Linked DNA regions of Homo sapiens. The protein of the gene in region 2 interacts with the protein of the main gene of each other region in a pairwise test. Each region holds a gene or a part of one and is shown on either strand. Other genes may lie near its edges.

Evidence for each region. Proteins that work in one complex are often made in the same cells at the same time.
Region 1: the proteins of HTT (region 2) and ZNF436 interact in binary tests that used the Homo sapiens proteins (3 or more experiments, as listed by UniProt).

The regions. Positions count from the first base shown.
Region 1 is NC_000001.11:23,359,837-23,363,336, forward strand, and holds part of ZNF436 (zinc finger protein 436), read right to left. Parts: intron 3,386-3,500; coding exon 2,133-3,385; 3' UTR 1-2,132. UniProt on the Homo sapiens protein: May be a transcriptional repressor.
Region 2 is NC_000004.12:3,077,681-3,081,180, forward strand, and holds part of HTT (huntingtin), read left to right. Parts: intron 1-3,500.

The sequences.
Region 1 (3,500 bases), on a different chromosome or scaffold from region 2:
CCAAAAGCAGCAGCAGGAACTGGTTGGGGTGGGGCAAGAACAGTAGGGAAGGAAAAGGGGGTGAAATACAGTTAGGTCATGGAAATGCGGTCATCTATGGCCACTCCCAAGCTGATACCCATAGTGGCTCACAGAAGCAACAGGAGAACTTTGACATTTATTAAAACCATCAGCAACATATATGAGAAAAGACATATTTGAGTTTAGTTACCAAGAACATGTGTCACCCGACAATTAAAATATGGATACCCACAGTCTGCTAGATTTTGTAAATAACAAAAAAACATGCTCCTTGCCTGAGTTTGTCCTTAAAAAGGAGTGGCAACATGAAGGAACCCCCCTGGAAGATGGGTTACTTTAAAGGTTGTGTTATTAACAAGTGATGTGGTCCCACACAGCTGTGGGTCACAATAACTCATTATAGTACCCACCCAGAGAGACCACTGGCTCCTTTAACACCAAGTCCTAAAAAGCTATGGCAAAACATTTTTAAAATGTTACAACATTCACAATAAAGAACAGTAGCAATAAAGCACAGTAGAAATAAACTGGGGGTACTCTCAAAAGAAAAGATATTCCTCACTCCAGTCCCATTTTCTGGGCACCAATTCCCTTCCACCCCAACATGCTTGGATAGCATCAACACTTGAGATATTTCTTAATTCCTACCTGGACTGAGATTAGGAAAACTGACACTACTGGGCTTAAATTGGGCGAACTGTTATTTTAACCTCTTATATCTGTAGGGTGGGAGGATGGAAATACATTCCTACCGAGGTTCGTTAATTCCTTCTGACTAAGCCAAAGAGTTCTTCATTACCATAGAAGATAATTCATTCTGAGAATAGGACAATCGACCTATTTGTCTGGTCATTATCTTCCACAATTGACAAACACATACAAACAAGTGCTTAGCTCTGTACAAAGACAGACCTTACAGGAGAGTGCACACTAAAGCACTAGTGTTTAAATTATTTTCCATAATGAAAAAAGGACATTTCTCACATTGGAGTTATGTCTGTACTTCTGTCACATGACTCACATCACCCAAGAACATGCTAAGTCTCTGTAAATTCAGTTTCTATTAGAAAAACCACAGGAATACACATTACTGTACATACACATGCCCTGATGCAAGCTAAGATAAACACTGGGATGTGGCCCTTATCAAATCTTAGAGTTAGCAGGATAGGAAGAGTTGATCTTAAAGATTAGAAGGGAAAGAACACAGAAACGACCTACATTCCTTGGGAAGGGACTCTGTGGTTCCTTCCCTGAAGGACTCAATTCCACTTGCTCCTTACACTTAACTGTCACTGATGGTCCTATCTTTTCTTGAAGATATTTTCTATACAATATTCCCTATAGTGATCCCCAAAGAAAATTCATAAATCTGATTAATGGCAGTAATAACTGTGGGCATCTTCTGCTAAAGTCACCATCATTGATGGGTCCTTGGTCCCCAAACCTGTGTCTCATTTTTCCTTTCCAACCGTATCTTCAGTTAGCCTTCACAAAGATGCAAGCTTTAAAGGAGCTAATTAGAAACAATGAGAAGGAGAAAAGTTACAATCATTGCCTTCATCGTGCAAAATCTTGCCCTCAGGAAGATGGAAAAGATACAAATGCATGAGCAACTCAAGGAAAAAGCCCTTTGGAAGGGAAGATGTGTGTGCCCAACTACTATGGTGTGTGAATAGGTGTGGCAATTTAGGCAGAGTCTCTAGTTGCCTTTTTCCAAAGCAGCCATTACCACCCTATTACAGTCCCACGTTTCACTTAGCATAGTTCCTTGGGCCAAGGATGGGAGAAAATAACATTGAAAGATTTACTCCATTTCCAGGCCTAAGCATTCACCAGCATTTGTCCCCTGGTCTTCAGATTTCCAGTTACTTGTGGGGCTGCTTTTAATGAAGTAACCCATTGAGTGAATAAAAATCACCATTTTGGAGGAGATAACATTCCCAAAGCTGAGGGTCAGAATTTCAAATGGCTTGTCATCTCTGATGGTTTAAATCGTGGCCCACAACTAGGAGAGTATGATAAAAGCAGCTCAGTCTTGAGGGCGTTCATTGATATCAAATAAAATTGTATCTTCAAATGAATCATTTCTCAGCCATCATAATTACAGCTTAGTCCGTATGAACTCTCTTATGTTTAATAAGAGCTGAGCTCCTGCTGAAACTCTTCTCACATTCGGTACATTCATAAGGTTTCTCTCCCGTGTGAACTCTTTGATGTGTGATGAGGTTGGAGCTCTGGGTGAAACCTTTCCCACACTGCACACACTCGTAGGGCTTCTCCCCTGTGTGGGTTCTCTGATGTTTAATTAGATCTGACCTTTCACCAAAGCTTCGCCAACACTCATTACACTCATAAGGCTTCTCTCCAGTGTGAATTTTCTGGTGTGTGATGAGATGAGAGCTCCGGCTGAAGCTTTTCCCACAAGCATTGCATTCATATGGCTTCTCTCCAGTGTGAGTTCTCTGGTGCTGAACCAAGTGTGAGATGCGGCTGAAATTTTCCCCACATTCGTTACAGTGGTATGGCTTCTCTCCCGTGTGGGCTCTGCGATGACGCACAAGGTCGGAGTTCTGACTGAAATTCTTCCCACACTCATCACACTTGTAGGGCCTCTCCCCTGTGTGGACTCGATAGTGTTTGATGAGATCAGATCTCTCACTGAAGCCTCGGCCACATTCGTTACATTCATAAGGTTTCTCACCCGTGTGGGTCCTCTGGTGCTGAGCTAGGTGAGAGCTCCGGCTGAAGCTTTTCCCACACTCCTCACACTCATAGGGTTTCTCACCACTGTGGGTCCTTTGGTGTTGGATTAGGTGAGAGAGACGGCAGAAACTTTTTCCACACTCATTACATTTGTGAGGCTTCTCTCCAGTGTGGATTGTCTGATGCTGAATCAGGTGAGAACTTCTTCCAAAACTTTTCCCACACTCGTTACAGTCATAAGGCCTCTCCCCAGTATGTGTTCTTTGATGCTGAATAAGGTGTGAGCTGCGACTGAAGCCTTTTCCACATTCATAACATTTATAGGGTCTGTCTCCAGTGTGGGTCTTCTGATGTCGATTAAGGTCTGAGATCTGACTGAAGGCCTTTCCACAATGAGAACATATATGATAGCGGATGCCTGTGTGGACTTCTTTGTGGACAAGTAGATCAGTGACTGGTTGGAGAGGATAGCTTACCCACTCTTCTGCTGTTAAATCTCCCCATTGTCTTTCTGACCTATCTCCGCTTTCAAAGCCCTCTTCACTTTCAGGATTTTCCTCAGCATTCTCAGCAGGTCTTTCAGATGTAGTCCCAAATTGTACATCTTCACTAATCTCTTGCTTGGGATTTACCTCGTTCTCACTCCTGATCTCAAAATCTGTAATAAAAAGTAAACAATAAGACTAGTAAGTACAAAAATTACCTATTGTGTGCCAGGCACTATACTAAATTTTTTTTTTTTTTAGACAGAGTCTCACTGTGTTGCCTTGGCT
Region 2 (3,500 bases):
GTGCTGGGATTACAGGTGTGAGCCACCATGCCTGGCTAGAATAATAACTTTTAAAGGTTCTTAGCATGCTCTGAAATCAACTGCATTAGGTTTATTTATAGTTTTATAGTTATTTTAAATAAAATGCATATTTGTCATATTTCTCTGTATTTTGCTGTTGAGAAAGGAGGTATTCACTAATTTTGAGTAACAAACACTGCTCACAAAGTTTGGATTTTGGCAGTTCTGTTCACGTGCTTCAGCCAAAAAATCCTCTTCTCAAAGTAAGATTGATGAAAGCAATTTAGAAAGTATCTGTTCTGTTTTTATGGCTCTTGCTCTTTGGTGTGGAACTGTGGTGTCACGCCATGCATGGGCCTCAGTTTATGAGTGTTTGTGCTCTGCTCAGCATACAGGATGCAGGAGTTCCTTATGGGGCTGGCTGCAGGCTCAGCAAATCTAGCATGCTTGGGAGGGTCCTCACAGTAATTAGGAGGCAATTAATACTTGCTTCTGGCAGTTTCTTATTCTCCTTCAGATTCCTATCTGGTGTTTCCCTGACTTTATTCATTCATCAGTAAATATTTACTAAACATGTACTATGTGCCTGGCACTGTTATAGGTGCAGGGCTCAGCAGTGAGCAGACAAAGCTCTGCCCTCGTGAAGCTTTCATTCTAATGAAGGACATAGACAGTAAGCAAGATAGATAAGTAAAATATACAGTACGTTAATACGTGGAGGAACTTCAAAGCAGGGAAGGGGATAGGGAAATGTCAGGGTTAATCGAGTGTTAACTTATTTTTATTTTTAAAAAAATTGTTAAGGGCTTTCCAGCAAAACCCAGAAAGCCTGCTAGACAAATTCCAAAAGAGCTGTAGCACTAAGTGTTGACATTTTTATTTTATTTTGTTTTGTTTTGTTTTTTTTGAGACAGTTCTTGCTCTATCAGCCAGGCTGGAGTGCACTAGTGTGATCTTGGCTCACTGCAACCTCTGCCTCTTGGGTTCAAGTGATTCTCATGCCTCAGCCTCCTGTTTAGCTGGGATTATAGACATGCACTGCCATGCCTGGGTAATTTTTTTTTTTTCCCCCGAGACGGAGTCTTGCTCTGTCGCCCAGGCTGGAGTGCAGTGGCGCGATCTCAGCTCACTGCAAGCTCCGCTTCCCGAGTTCACGCCATTCTCCTGCCTCAGTCTCCCAAGTAGCTGGGACTACAGGCGCCTGCCACCACGTCCAGCTAATTTTTTTGTATTTTTAATAGAGACGGGGTTTCACCGTGTTAGCCAGGATGATCTTGATCTCCTGACCTCGTCATCCGCCGACCTTGTGATCCGCCCACCTCGGCCTCCCAAAGTGCTGGGATTACAGGCATGAGCCACTGTGCCCGGCCACGCCTGGGTAATTTTTGTATTTTTAGTAGAGATGGGGTTTTGCCATGATGAGCAGGCTGGTCTCGAACTCCCGGCCTCATGTGATCTGCCTGCCTTGGCCTCCCAAAGTGCTAGGATTACAGGCATGAGCCACCATACCTGGCCAGTGTTGATATTTTAAATACGGTGTTCAGGGAAGGTCCACTGAGAAGACAGCTTTTTTTTTTTTTTTTTTTGGGGTTGGGGGGCAAGGTCTTGCTCTTTAACCCAGGCTGGAATGCAGTATCACTATCGTAGCTCACTTCAGCCTTGAACTCCTGGGCTCAAGTGATCCTCCCACCTCAACCTCACAATGTGTTGGGACTATAGGTGTGAGCCATCACACCTGGCCAGATGATGGCTTTTGAGTAAAGACCTCAAGCGAGTTAAGAGTCTAGTGTAAGGGTGTATGAAGTAGTGGTATTCCAGATGGGGGGAACAGGTCCAAAATCTTCCTGTTTCAGGAATAGCAAGGATGTCATTTTAGTTGGGTGAATTGAGTGAGGGGGACATTTGTAGTAAGAAGTAAGGTCCAAGAGGTCAAGGGAGTGCCATATCAGACCAATACTACTTGCCTTGTAGATGGAATAAAGATATTGGCATTTATGTGAGTGAGATGGGATGTCACTGGAGGATTAGAGCAGAGGAGTAGCATGATCTGAATTTCAATCTTAAGTGAACTCTGGCTGACAACAGAGTGAAGGGGAACACCGGCAAAAGCAGAAACCAGTTAGGAAGCCACTGCAGTGCTCAGATAAGCATGGTGGGTTCTGTCAGGGTACCGGCTGTCGGCTGTGGGCAGTGTGAGGAATGACTGACTGGATTTTGAATGCGGAACCAACTGCACTTGTTGAACTCTGCTAAGTATAACAATTTAGCAGTAGCTTGCGTTATCAGGTTTGTATTCAGCTGCAAGTAACAGAAAATCCTGCTGCAATAGCTTAAACTGGTAACAAGCAAGAGCTTATCAGAAGACAAAAATAAGTCTGGGGAAATTCAACAATAAGTTAAGGAACCCAGGCTCTTTCTTTTTTTTTTTTTTGAAACGGAGTTTCGCTCTTGTCACCCGGGCTGGAGTGCAATGATGTGATCTCAGCTCACTAAAACCTCTACCTCCTGGGTTCAAGTGATTCTTCTGCCTCAGCCTCCCAAGTAACTGGGATTACAGGCGTATACCACCATGCCCAGCTAATTTTTGTGTTTTTAGTAGAGATGGGGTTTCACCATGTTGGCCAGGCTGGTCTCGAACTTCTGACCTCAGGTGATCCACTCGCCTCAGCCTGCCAAAGTGCTGGGATTACAGGTTTGGGCCACTGCACCCGGTCAGAACCCAGGCTCTTTCTTATACTTACCTTGCAAACCCTTGTTCTCATTTTTTCCCTTTGTATTTTTATTGTTGAATTGTAATAGTTCTTTATATATTCTGGATACTGGATTCTTATCAGATAGATGATTTGTAAAAACTCTCCCTTCCTTTGGATTGTCTTTTTACTTTCTTGATAGTGTCTTTTGAAGTGTAAAAGTTTTTAATTTTGATGAAGTCGAGTTTATCTATTTTGTCTTTGGTTGCTGTGCTTCAAGTGTCATATCTAAGAAATCATTGTCTAATCCAAAGTCAAAAAGGTTTACTCCTATGTTTTCTTCTAAGAATTTTAGAGTTTTACATTTAAGTCTGATCCATTTTGAGTTAATTTTTATATATGGTTCAGGTAGAAGTCCAACTTTATTCTTTTCCATGTGGTTATTCAGTTGTCCCAGCACTGTTTGTTGAAGAGACTATTCTTTCCCCATGGAATTATCTTAGTACCCTTGTTGAAAATTAATCGTCCTTAATTGTATAAATTTATTTCTAGACTGTCAGTTCTACCTGTTGGTCTTTATGTCGATCCTGTGCCAGTACCATACAGTCTTGATTACTGAAGTTTGTGTCACAGTTTAAATTCATGAAATGTGAGTTCTCCAACTTTGTTCCTTTTCAAGATTGATTTGGCCATGCTGGGTCCCTTGCATTTCCGTACGAATTGTAGGATCAGCTTGTCAGTTTCAACAAAGAAGCCAAGTAGGATTCTGAGAGGGATTGTGTTGAATCTGTAGATCAACTTGGGGAGTAT